4 linked regions of the Homo sapiens genome follow. The protein of the gene in region 3 interacts with the protein of the main gene of each other region in a biochemical or structural test. Each region holds a gene or a part of one and is shown on either strand. Other genes may lie near its edges.

Evidence for each region.
Region 1: the proteins of CUL4B (region 3) and SALL2 form a complex in vitro, tested with the Homo sapiens proteins (one study listed by BioGRID).
Region 2: the proteins of CUL4B (region 3) and DCAF12 form a complex in vitro, tested with the Homo sapiens proteins (one study listed by BioGRID).
Region 4: the proteins of CUL4B (region 3) and PHIP form a complex in vitro, tested with the Homo sapiens proteins (one study listed by BioGRID).

The regions. Positions count from the first base shown.
Region 1 is NC_000014.9:21,520,580-21,523,346, reverse strand, and holds the end of SALL2 (sal-like protein 2), read left to right. Parts: coding exon 1-643; 3' UTR 644-1,102; coding exon of another isoform or gene 1,103-1,339; 3' UTR 1,340-2,267; downstream 2,268-2,767. UniProt on the Homo sapiens protein: Probable transcription factor that plays a role in eye development before, during, and after optic fissure closure.
Region 2 is NC_000009.12:34,092,199-34,095,698, reverse strand, and holds part of DCAF12 (DDB1- and CUL4-associated factor 12), read left to right. Parts: intron 1-2,250; coding exon 2,251-2,413; intron 2,414-3,500. UniProt on the Homo sapiens protein: Substrate-recognition component of a DCX (DDB1-CUL4-X-box) E3 ubiquitin-protein ligase complex of the DesCEND (destruction via C-end degrons) pathway, which recognizes a C-degron located at the extreme C terminus of target proteins, leading to their ubiquitination and degradation.
Region 3 is NC_000023.11:120,529,963-120,533,462, reverse strand, and holds part of CUL4B (cullin-4B), read left to right. Parts: intron 1-868; coding exon 869-1,041; intron 1,042-3,208; coding exon 3,209-3,361; intron 3,362-3,500.
Region 4 is NC_000006.12:79,068,255-79,071,754, reverse strand, and holds part of PHIP (PH-interacting protein), read left to right. Parts: exon of another isoform or gene 1-864; intron 865-2,580; exon of another isoform or gene 2,581-3,500.

The sequences.
Region 1 (2,767 bases), on a different chromosome or scaffold from region 3:
GGCAATATCAGTGAGAGGTGATTCAGAAGAGGCATCTGGGGCAGAGGAGGAGGTGGGGACAGTGGCGGCAGCAGCCACAGCTGGGAAGGAGATGGACAGTAATGAGAAAACTACTCAACAGTCTTCTTTGCCACCACCACCACCACCTGACAGCCTGGATCAGCCTCAGCCAATGGAGCAGGGAAGCAGTGGTGTTTTAGGAGGCAAGGAAGAGGGGGGCAAACCGGAGAGAAGCTCAAGTCCGGCATCAGCACTCACCCCAGAAGGGGAAGCCACCAGCGTGACCTTGGTAGAGGAGCTGAGCCTGCAGGAGGCAATGAGAAAGGAGCCAGGAGAGAGCAGCAGCAGAAAGGCCTGCGAAGTGTGTGGCCAGGCCTTTCCCTCCCAGGCAGCTCTGGAGGAGCATCAGAAGACCCACCCCAAGGAGGGGCCGCTCTTCACTTGTGTTTTCTGCAGGCAGGGCTTTCTTGAGCGGGCTACCCTCAAGAAGCATATGCTCCTGGCACACCACCAGGTACAGCCCTTTGCCCCCCATGGCCCTCAGAATATTGCTGCTCTTTCTCTAGTCCCTGGCTGTTCGCCTTCCATCACCTCCACAGGGCTCTCCCCCTTTCCCCGAAAAGATGACCCCACGATCCCATGAGCCTGTTTTTCTGTACCTGCTGCTCTTTGTCCCACAGAGCAGAAACAGCTTCACAAAAGGACCTCCCAGAGTTATGAGCCCTGATTTTGTCTTTTTCTCTAAGTTCTTAACATGTTATGTCCCTAGTGGCTTTTCTGTAGTCCCTGAGCTTGGAAATTACTGTGCTTACAAGGGGATGGCCCCCTAAGGAATTTTTCTTCCCTCCTCATTCTTTGTACCTGAGGAACATAGATTCTCTGCAGCTTTCTCAAGGGGAACCCTCTCCAGCTTCCCTGGTGTGACCCTTCTTCCCCCTCCTCTCTCCTCTCCCTTTCCCTTTGGTAGGTGCACCTGAGCACCTACATTTGGCATTGCAGCCTAGCCAAAAAGGGCTGGCAGCTGTCTCTGGAGGGCCCAGTGCCACTCCTCTGGGGTGACCTTTCTGCTCAGCTGGTGGGTATGGGTCCCCTATCTTTCTAGAACCAGTATGTGGCATTCCTGTCAAATGGCCTGCCCATGAAGCCCTGGAATTCCAGCTCCACCTCCACTACCACTCCAAGCCTGGCCCCACCAGTGCTGTTTGGCCTAGGAACTGTGGCTGGGAAGGTGCCTCCAACAATGGGATCCAGGGAAGCCAAGGAGAAGACAGCCCCCCTCCTATTTCAGCCTCCTGCACCCAAGGCAGTGCCTGAGAAGCCCATCATAGACAAGAAGTAGCAAACTGTACATTCCTTCTTCCTCCCCCTGCTCCAGAAGGTGCCGGTACTGAAGATGCTCCAGTAATTGGTGACCCAACCCTAGGAAGTAGGGAGAAATGAAGGAAGGGCATAGGAAAATTTTCCCAGTAAATCCCCTGATGGTCACATTAAGGTAAAGGTTTTGGCTGGTCAGTGTGCCAAGACCTCTCCAGCTTCTCATTCATGATGACCTCTCAAAGTTGGGAAACAAGCTGATTTCTTGCCAAGAGGTCTCCCAGGAGATATTTGGGAAATGTGAAGTTCGTATCTTTAAGGAGCATTTTTGGTCAGCATGGTTGATGAACTAATGATGAGAGAGTTAAGGAATGTTGCTAGAACATAGGGCTTGCTGGTACCTATGTGACTAAGAAAGGGACATGATGTAAGGGAAAAGGCCTCAAATTCTTGTGAATGTCTGGACATTCTCGTTAATATTCTTTTGGGCTAATAGTGACATAGTGTGCAGAGGTGTACCAGGGATCATGGGGGATTTCCTAGCACTAGTATGCTTCTAGTTTTAGATAACTCCCTCCTTTATTCCCTGGCCCCTTGTATTTTCCTTATCTTCCTCTTTCAAGACCCCTACCCATTTTGCCTATCCGTAGGCTGGGGCTTGTGTCTTTGTCATTGTCTGGTTCTTAAGAGTCCCAGACTTTGGGAGACCAGCTCCAGGTGGCGTCCTCCCTGCCTCTCCGTCTTGTAATGAGTTGTAGTATTTACTCTTAACATAGGATCATTTGGAACAGGAGTTCTGAGGAGGAGAGAGTGAGGGTTTTGCTATTGACTGACTTGAACGATGGCTTCTCCTCAAGCTGTAGGCTCCAGAGCTTCCTAACCTAGTAAAATGTCAAGAACAGACGGGAGATATTAGTGTCTTTCCCTCTATCATTAAAGGTGTTTTAACCAAATATTTATGTGTTTCTCCTTATTTCATGATTACATAGCCAGCTGGGGTGTGATATGGGCATTCCCCAAAATTGAGATTCCCTTCCCACCTACATCTCCTGCCAAAGCTGAACATATGGTGTTGAAATATTTACTTTATTCAGCCTTGTCCTAAGACAACCTTCAGTTAATGTAACTTCTCTGTGGAAATTGTTCCCTGTGGAGTTTGTATTTCCAAAAGGTAGGCATTTGCCCACTGTGTCCAGTCATTGTCTAGATTTTCTCTACCTAGAACCTTCCACCACCAGGCTTTTCTGTGGGTTTTGTTTGGAGGTTGGAAACTGTTTCTTTTCCGTCTTTCTCAAACCACAGATCAGCCTTCTGACATCAGCGAATCTGTAGAACCAAGGTGAATTAAACTTTATGATCCTTGAGATCTGATGTCATAATCAGAAAGAAAAAAATGTAATTCAACCCTAATAATTTCTACCAACAAGACAAAGGAGGATTCTTATCATTAGGA
Region 2 (3,500 bases), on a different chromosome or scaffold from region 3:
TCCAAAATCCAGTTGGGCACAATACCTTAGGCCTGTAATCCCAACACTTTGGGAGGTTGAAGCAGGAGGATTGCTTGAGCCCAGGAGTTCAAAACTAGCCTGGGCAACACAGTAAGACCCTATCTCTGCAACAAAATTTAAAAATTAGCCATACATTGTGGCATATGCCTGTAGTCCCAGCTACTGGAGGGTAGCAGTGCTGAGGCAGGAGGACCACTTGAGCTGAGGAGGTCAAGGCTGCAGTGAGCCGTAATTTTGCCACTGCACTCCAGCCTGGGTGACAGAGCGAGACCCTATCTCAAAAAAAAAAAAAAAAAAAAAAAAAAGGCCTGGCGCGGTGGTTCACGCCTATAATCCCAGCACTTTGGGAGGCCGAGGCAGGTGGATCATGAGGTCAAGAGATTGAGACCATGCTGGCCAACATGGCGAAACCCCGTCTCTACTAAAAATACAAAAATTAGCTGGGCGTGGTGGTGGGCGTCTGTAGTCCCAGATACTTGGGAGGCTGAGGCAGGAGAATCGCTTGAACCCAGGAGGCAGAGGTTGCAGTGAGCCGAGATCATGCCACTGCACTCCAGCCTGGCAACAGAGCAAGACTCTCTCTCAAAAAAAAAAGCCTCCAAAGTCCAAAACTTTTTGAGCACCAACACAATGCCACAAATGGAAAATTTCACATGGGACACCTTTGCTTTCTGACAGGTCAGTGTACCAAACATTGTTTAATGCAGAAAATTATTTAAAATATTGCATAAAATTACCTTCACTCTATGTGTATAAGATGTATATGAAACATAAATGAATTTTGTGGTTAGACTTGGGTGCCATCCCCAAGATAGCTCCTTACATATATGTAGATATTTAAAAATCGGGGCCGGGTGCGGTGGCTCACGCCTATAATCCCAGCACTTTGGGAGGCCAAGGTGGGCGGATCGCAAGGTCAGGAGATTGAGACCATCCTGGCTAACATGGTGAAACCCCGTCTCTACTAAAAATACAAAAAATTAGCCGGGCGTGGTGGTGGGCGCTTGTAGTCCCAGCTACCCGGGAAGCTGAGGCAGGAGAATGGTGTGAACCCAGGAGGTGGAGCTTGCAGTGAGCTGAGATCGCGCCACTGTACTCCAGCCTGGGCGACAGTGCGAGACTCCGTCTCAAAAAAAAAAAAAAAAAGCTGGAGAAATCCGAAATTCAAAACATTTGTAGTCACAAGCCTTTTGGATAAGGGAGATTCAACAAGCAACTTTTACATAGAGTTAAACCTACCTGTGAATCATTTGTCTTTTTTTTATTTTTTTTGAGACAGAGTCTCACTTTGTTGCCCAGGCTAGAATGCAGTGGCACGATCTCAGCTCACTGCAACCTCCGCCTCCCAGGTTCAAGTGATTCTCCTTCCTCAGCCTCCTGAGTAGCTGGGATTACAGGCATGCACCACTACCCCTAGCTAATTTTTGGTATTTTTAGTAGAGATGGCATCTCACCAGGTTGGCCAGCCTGGTCTCAAACTCCTGACCTCAGGTGATCTGCCTGCCTTAGCCTCCCAAAGTGCTGGGATTACAGACGTTAGCCACCACGCCCAGCTTTTTCTCTTCTTCTTATCCTTGAGGACTTTGCAAGAGGAAGCAGGGTTCCAGGAATTAGTGATTCCTTCATGTCACAATAGCCTTTGAGCTCCACTGACCTTGTATGCTGTCTTATGTGTTGTATGCACCCACTGAGGATTTGCTAACTGACGAAGACCCAGGGTTAAGGCTGATGTGGGTTATCTGGGATTAAGCTAGTCCCATGGGCGTGCTTTCTATAGCGTACAATTCCCATTCAGGTGGGAAGGTGAGCTGGGGGTAGCCAGAGATCAGCCTCTTTATCTGAAAAGCACTGAGGTGGCCCTTCCTGGCAGACAGAACAGAGTGGGACTATGGCTTTAGTGCCCTGGAACGATTCCCAGAAACAACCTGAATAGTTGAAACAGCCTACCAAGAAAGGCCTTGGCCTTTCCAGCTACTTCTGATTATTTATTCCAGATTTACCTTTTCCCCAACCTATCTCCTTCAGTATCTAGGTCTTACCGTTTATTAACATTCACCTCCTCTTTCTCCTGTATACCTAGGGGTGGAACAGAGTGTTATTTCTGTAATCAGGGCTTGATTTTATGTGGCTTTTATATGAGGGAAGCCCATCAAGGTGGGAGTCCAGAAACAATATCCCTGCCTTACCCTCTCTGCTGATGCCATGGTTATATCTCTCCTCTATTTTCAGCTCCTCTCCACCAAACTGCCATATTGCCGTGAGAATGTGTGTCTGGCTTATGGTAGTGAATGGTCAGTTTATGCAGTGGGCTCCCAAGCTCATGTCTCCTTCTTGGATCCACGGCAGCCATCATACAACGTCAAGTCTGTCTGTTCCAGGGAGCGAGGCAGTGGTAAGAGTCCCTGTGTGCACCTCAGGCCTACAGCTGCACTGCATATGGGTTCTGACTTTCAGTTTCTTTGTTGGTTTCCAAACAGGTATAGTGCTCTGTATGGAACATTTGGAAGTGTGTTCAAAAAGGGGAGCGATGGCTAGGCGTGGTGGCTTACGCCTGTAATCCCAGCACTTTGGGAGGCCGAGGCGGGTGGATCACCTGAGGTCGGGAGTTTGAGATCAGCCTGACCAATAAATATGGAGAAACCCCGTCTCTACTAAAAATACAAAATTAGCCGGGCGCAGTGGCGCATGCCTGTAATCCCAGCTGCTCAGGAGGCTGAGGCAGGAGAATTGCTTGAACCTGGGAGGCGGAGGTTGCGGTGAGCTGAGATCGCACCATTGCACTCCAGCCTGGGCAATGAGCGCGAAATTCTGTCTCAAAAAAAAAGGGGTGTGGGGGGAGTGACACAAAAGGGCACTAGACTTTCAAACACCACAGACAAATGTGTGGCCACAGAAGCCTTTGTTGGGAGCCACCAGTCAGGATATTAGTTAGTAGTTTCCATGTTCTTTTAGAAAGCTCTACTTTTTTTTTGTTGTTGTTGTTTTTTTTTTTTGAGACAGAGTCTCGCTCTTTTGCCAGGCTGGAGTGTAGTGGCGTGATCTCAGCTCACTGCAACCTCTGCCTTCTGAGTTCAAGTGATTCTCCTGCCTCAGCCTCGCGAGTAGGTGGGACTACAGGCACACACCACCACGCCCAGCTAATTTTTGTATTTTTAGTAGAGACGGGGTTTCACCATGTTGGCCAGGATGGCCTTGATCTCTTGACCTTGTGATCCACCCACCTCGGCCTTCCAAAGTGCTGAGATTACAGGCGTGAGCCACTGCACCTGGCCGAGAGCCCTACTTTCTATCCTGTGGTAATTTTTTTGCTGTGGTCCTGCCTGAACTAAAATTCTATTTATGCTAAGATGTGGCATGGTGGGATAAGGAGGAAGTTTACAAAGGGCATGAGGAAACCTCAGGGTAATGAGTATGTTCATTATGTAGATTGTGGTTATGATGTCATGGATATATACATATGTCAGAACCTCAAATTGTAT
Region 3 (3,500 bases):
TGTAACATAGAATAGTGAGTTAAAAAATTAGGTAAGATGAGTAGGGCCTGATTGTGGAGAACCTGATAAGTCTAGCAAATGAAACCTACACTGTAGTGTCTCAACTATGTGGCATGGTGGAAGTAATTATTTGGACCACTTACTGAAATCAATCTACAGGGCAACTGGAAGGATCAAGGGATTCCAGTTTAGATGCTATTGGGATGATTCAGGCATAAAGTAGAAGGGACTTAGACTAGAATGAGACCATGAAAATGGAGAAAACTCATCTCTGCGGAAGCAGCGGCTAGCTATTATGTTGAGGATGAAGGAGAAGGAAAAGTTAAAAGATGATTTTAGGGTTTCCCAACTGAGAAGGTTAGTGGTATCACCACTGACAATTGGAAAGAGGACACAGTTATATGGAGATGATGAATCAAATTTTGGACGTAACTACAGTTGATAGTAAAACAGCCAGGCGGAATTGCCCTTTAAACGTGCAACTGGAGAGAAGTGAAATGTCATTTTGGAATATTTGGTAGTTGCCCACATGGTATGATAATTGACGTCTTTAAAAGAGGACTAGGGGCCGGGCGTGGTGGCTCACATCTGTAATCCCAGCACTTTGGGAGGCCAAGGCGGGTGGATCACTTGAGCTCAGGAGTTTGAGACCAGCCTGGGCAACATGGTGAAACCCCGCCTCTATTTTTTTTAAAAAAGAAGAGGACTAGGAAAAAAGCCATTGGCTAGAACAAAGAAAAGTTGTTGGTGACCTTTGGGAAAAAATGAAATAGTTTTAATAGGGGGATGGAGTGGAAGCTAGATTGAGGTAGAATGTCGTAGTTGTTCATGCTGGTAACAAATAACTAAACCTCTGTTTCTTCTTCAGAGGATGGAGAGTTAAGGAGAACACTGCAGTCATTAGCCTGTGGCAAAGCTAGAGTTCTGGCGAAAAATCCAAAGGGCAAAGACATTGAAGATGGTGACAAGTTCATTTGTAATGATGATTTCAAACATAAACTTTTCAGGATAAAGATCAATCAAATCCAGATGAAAGAAACGGTATTTCTTTCACTTTCTCTTAGTCCTAACACACTGGAATTATACATGTTAATAATCAAAATATATAAAGATTTTTATACCTGTAATACTGCCAATACCATTAATATTTTTTGTGTCTATGTCCAGCTAAATATGTTTCCTGATTTGATTTTGGGTGTTTGGGAGAGTGGTTGTACAGGATTGAGATGATACTCAACATAGTTTCATATCTTACTTTGTTTATTTAGTATTCAATCTTTAGAATTTTTCCATGCCATTAAATAGCTTCGAAAAATGGCAGATGGCAGTGTAATATTTTTACATGGCTCTTATAGTTTGTTCAACCACTGTTCATTTTGGGGCAATTAAATTCATGACTTATTAGTATTATAAATAAGATTGCAAGAAACCTCTTTGAAACTAAATTTTAATCTCTGATATATGATAAATTTGTGGAAGTAGATTTTTTTGGGTTAAAGGGTATGAACATTTTAGGAGTCTTAGTACATAATGTCATATTGTGTTCCGGAAAGGCTGGACCAGTTTATACTCTGTCCAGCAGCATATGAGAGCCTGTCTTACTATGTCCCCCAGCACTAAAGATTATATTTTCTTTTGCCAACTTGCTTGGTGAAAAATCTGAATTGATTTATTCACTATTTATTTGATTAACAGTGAAGGTGGGCCAGGTACGGTGGTTCACACCTGTAATCCCAGTACCTTGGGAGGCCGAGGCGGGCAGATCACCTGAGGTCAGGAGTTCAAAACCAGCTTGGCCAACATGGCGATACCCTGTCTCTACTAAAAATACAAAAATCAGCTGGGCGTGGTGGTGCGTGCTTGTAGTCCCAGCTACTTGGGAGGCTGAGGCATGAGAATCACCTGAACCCGGGATGTGGAGGTTGCAGTGAGCTGAGATCGCGCCACTGCACTGCAGCCTGGGTGACAGTGAGACTCTGTTTAAAAAAAAGAAAAAAAAAACAAAAACAGGGAAGGTGAATATTTTGTTTGTTTTTGCCATTTGAATTTGTAAGAGACTTCCAACTGCAGCATCCTGAAACTGATGGTTTCAGTTCCAATAAGGTTTAATGCAATATTTGAAAAAAAAAAAATTTTTTTTTTGAGGTGGAGTCTCACTCTGTCACCCAGGCTGGAGTCAGTGGCACGATCTTGGCTCACTGCAGCCTCCGCCTTCCAGGTTCAAGCGATTATCCTGCCTCAGCCTCCTGAGTAGCTGGGACTACATGCGTGAGCGACCATGCCCGGCTAATTTTTGTATTTTAAGTAGAGATGGGTTTTCACCATATTGACCAGGCAGGTCTTGAACTCCTGACCTCATGATCCGCCCATCTCGGCCTCCCAAAGTGCTGGAATTATAGGTGTGAGCCACTGAGCCCGACTGAAAAAATTTTAATGTAGGACAGCGACCAGTATCTCCAAACAAGTTCCTGTCATTTTCACATACACATCAAAGACAGGATATTTTCTTAAAGGATTACCATGTCCTTACTTTTAAAACATTTATGCTGTACCAGGAAGAAACTGCTGCAAAAAGGCCAAACTGTTTTTTTGGTTTAATTACTAAAGATGAACATTTTTACTTTAGCATCAAGATTGGTAAACCGCCTCCTAAATACCTACATTTCTGTAAGTCTTGAAGGATTGTAAGCACTAATGGCATGCATGTCTGATTTATATATTACAAAATAAAAATTAATTTTCAAAGAGGTTGACTCTTAACTAGTTTGCTTAGCCAGTTAATACCATGCCTTGAGTCAGAGATCAGACAGAGTCACCTTATAGACAAGCTATTGTCATAGAGAAATCTGGTTAACAATCCATTGAAACTGATACACACATTTAGAAGATATATCAAAGACAGAGTAAAAAAACAAAATGGTAAATTCCACATCAGCTATCTCTACTTCTAGAAAAGCAATTCAAAGATGATGTTTTTCTATTAACTAATATTAGCATTACTTCATTGGTATAGGGCAATATAATCAGAACAGAAAGGAGTTATGTTTGTAGGATTTTTCTCTGTCAGCATCTATATTTATAAGACCCCATTTAGATAATTCAGTACCTTTAAAGCAATAACAATGTCATGTCCCTAAAATGCACAATTTATGTAAATAGTCAGGTTTTGCTTCTGGTATAATTCCTAGGTTTAAAACTTTTTTGTTAGGTTGAAGAACAAGCAAGCACTACAGAAAGAGTATTTCAAGACAGACAGTATCAAATTGATGCTGCAATTGTTCGAATTATGAAGATGAGAAAGACACTTAGCCACAATCTCCTTGTTTCAGAAGTGTACAACCAGTTGAAATTTCCAGTAAAGGTAGGTACTTCTGTGTTTTCCTATTGAGCGTGTTATAAATAAAAGAAAGTACATTAGATTTTCAGACACAAATCTTGCAAACATAAAGCGTCATGACCATTTAGAGAGAGAAAAGTTTTAATTTCCCATGTTGATGCAT
Region 4 (3,500 bases), on a different chromosome or scaffold from region 3:
AATAGGTTAGTTTCATTCTTACTAGTAGTTTCCTTGTATAAATTTCAGAATTCATAGAAAAATATCTGTAATACTAAGCTAAGTAGCCTTTAGTTGCCAGAGAATACCAAACATACTTATTTAAAATAACTTCCTATTTTAATGCACTTTTACTTAGAAAAAAATTTTTAACAGCTAATTTTAGGATATTTAAGTTGCTTTTGTGGTTATATCTAAAAGTGGCAAAGGCTATTATAGGAATCAAATTTAAAATTTTAGAAAGACATTTTAAATGTGAACATTCTCAGTTTCTATTATTTTTTGAGAAGCTATGTCAATGAAATTATGAGGAAATTGTGAGTTAATAAATTACTTTGCAGTGAATAATGTTATTGGACCTATGGAATATAGAGGAGTGTAAGTATTTTATAACAAATTGGTGAAAATGATAACATGTTTTTTCTTGATGGAATTTGATAAAGCAGGGTACTGAAAAATCACAAACTGTTATCTTATTGAATAGTGATGAATGTAAGTTGACAAGTTACTACAGAGAAGGCAATCATCAGTTGTGAGGCAGGTCCTCCTTTATTTACCTTACACACTCAAAAACAGCCGTATTTGAGCTTAGGCATCACAGGTAAGAAAAGGATGGTTGGATGAGGAGTTTTTGATAAGAAAATTTAGGTGGCAACATAGTCGAATGCAGCTTCTTCTTATATTAAAACTAAATTGTAAGGAGAATGAGATGTGTGGTATAGGTAAGCCCTAGGTTATCCATGACAGTACAGATGGCTATGGCAGGTTTTTTTGCAGAAGAGACACAGGAAGAATTCATGTACAGCAGGCCTTCCTTATCTGCGGGTGTCACATCTGTGAATTCAACTGTAGATCAAAATAGTTTAGAAAAAAATACATAAAAAATTTTTAAAATACATTGTAACAATTATTTACATAACATTTACGTTGTATTAGATATTATAAGTAATCTAGAGATGATTTAAAGTGTGCAGGAGGAGTGTAAAGGTTATACGAAAATACTGTGCCAGTTTATATGAGGAATTAGAGCATCCTGGATTTTGATTTTGGTGTGGGGTTTCCTGGAACCATTCCCCCATGAAGATTGGAGGATGACTGTGTTCTGGACTCCAGCTGACCCATGGTCATGTGTCATGGTCTATTTGGTCTCTGTCATGAATAGAAAAAGGCATGTAACTTGTCTTGGGAAAGGTTATAGTATAATGCAAGAAATACATACCTTGTGTTTGACTCTGGTTTAGTTTTTGGGTGTAGAGACACTAAATTCTAGGCAACTTAGTGAAACATCCGTTGTCTGAAACAACTTTGCTGTCATTGTATAAGAATTGTGTTATTTTGAGTACTGTGCTTGAAACTGAAACATTAAAAATGAAACTGGTCATTCAAGATTATTTACATTGGCCTTAGTATAAGCAGTTAAAGGATGTTTCGTCCTTAAATTAATACACAGTAACTTTTCATCAGATTCCTAGATTTGAGTTTAACGTTTTACTAATAATGCTTTAAAGAGAATTTTAAAATTACACAAATTAGCACATATGACGACTTAAACATCAAAACTTGAAAATTTGTTATTTTAAGCAGTTAAATGTTGTCATTTTGTTGTATTTTAAATTATTTTTTATGGAGCATCCCTACTTTGGTTTATGGAAACCTCAATTCTGAATAGAGTCTCTTTTTTTTAGCAAGATGTAATTGGTTTATGATGAATAAAATTTGGAAGCGTAGTATTGCATTTTCTTTTTTTGTTTGTTTTTCTTATAGTATTGCATTTTCTTTAAATGACAAATTTGTGTTGGTATTTGTATTGATAATGTAAACTGAATTATTATCTAAATGAATTCTTAACAGTTAAGTAAATTCTGAATATGACATATTCTTTGAAGCTTGTTTATTCACAATTACTTGAGCAAATAGACCATCAAGATTTTTACACTTAATAAGGTTCTATATTAATTTTATTATAATTATAAAGAAATAATAGGCATCTAAGGGTCCTTCTGAGAATAGTTACCCAGGTTAGAGGACTTGACTTGTACTGACTTATATGGGTTCTATTAAGTTTTTAATCAAATCTACGTGTCGATGGGGAGAAAAACTAAAGTTCTAATAAGGAAGCTGTAACATAATAAAAATATCAGTAAACTTGGAATCAGGAGACCTGGGTTTGATTACTATTTCTCCTATTTTCCAAATGTGTGCCCTCAGACAAACTGCTGCCTTTGAACTTCAGTTTTCTTTATGTATGAAATAGGGAGAGTAGTTAAGCTTATGTGCTTATGAAGATAAATAAATTTTGGGAACACTCAGCACAAAGTAAGTACTCTGTTTTTCTGTGGAGAAGCTATTACAGTTAAAAAATCAGAAAATGCATTCTTTCTTTAAAGATTATAGATATAATTTAACCCACACTGTTAGTAACAGATTTATAATTGTAAGCTTGGATGTTTTTAGAATTTTAGGGGCTGGGATTTTAATATAGGCCTTACACAGTAATTATCACATAGTATTTCTATAAATTTATATTTATATATTGTATATTATATATTATAAATAATAAAATATAATTAATGTATATACAATATATTGTATTTCTATAATTTTGTTTATATGCTACAGTAGTGTACAAATAAGAACTATATTCCAATAAACTGGCCTTTTAGAACTCAAAAACATAATAGAGAGCAGAAGTGTAACTAGCCTTTTATATCTGACAAAACTGTGAGAGAATAGATTTGAGAAGATCTGAAAAACTGACTTTTTTAGAACCAATTAGGTGTTCAGAACATAAGGATGAAGTGAAAGCCTAGTTAGACAAATGATACTGGTGCCAAACAGCAGGGTCTTATTTTCATAATAATTATATACTAGAGGAAAGAAGGGCACTTCTAGGTCTTCACAGCTAAATCAAATAATTGGAATGAATATATTGATCTAACATCACTTTGAAAAGGTTGTTAAAAACATGCTCAAATTTTTTTCCTATTTAGATTTACAAAGATTTTGTTCAACACGAAGGGTCAATATGTAATATAGAATGTAATTAAAGTAACAGCCAACTGTTAGGTACAGTACTAACTGCTTCATATGGTTTAATTTAATAATTTATGACTACTTTCCAAGGTGGTGACTGTTGTGATACCAGTCATACAGATGAGGACACTGAGGCTTAGAAAGAGTAAATGTTTTTCCCACCCTCAGCCTTAGCAACTTTAAACCCAGGCTGTGTGACTTGAGATTTCGTGGGGTTTTTTGTTTATTTCGCTTTGTTTTTGAGACAAAGTCTTGCCCTGTCACTCAGGCTGGTGTGCAGTGGCATGATCTTGGCTCACTGCAACCTCTGTCTCCAGGGTTCAGGCAATTCTCCTGCTTCAGCCTCCTGAGTATCTGGGACTACAGGCACGTGCCACCACGTCCGGCTAATTTTTGTATTTTTGGTAGAGACGGGGTTTCACCATGCTGGCAGGGCTGGTCTTGAACTC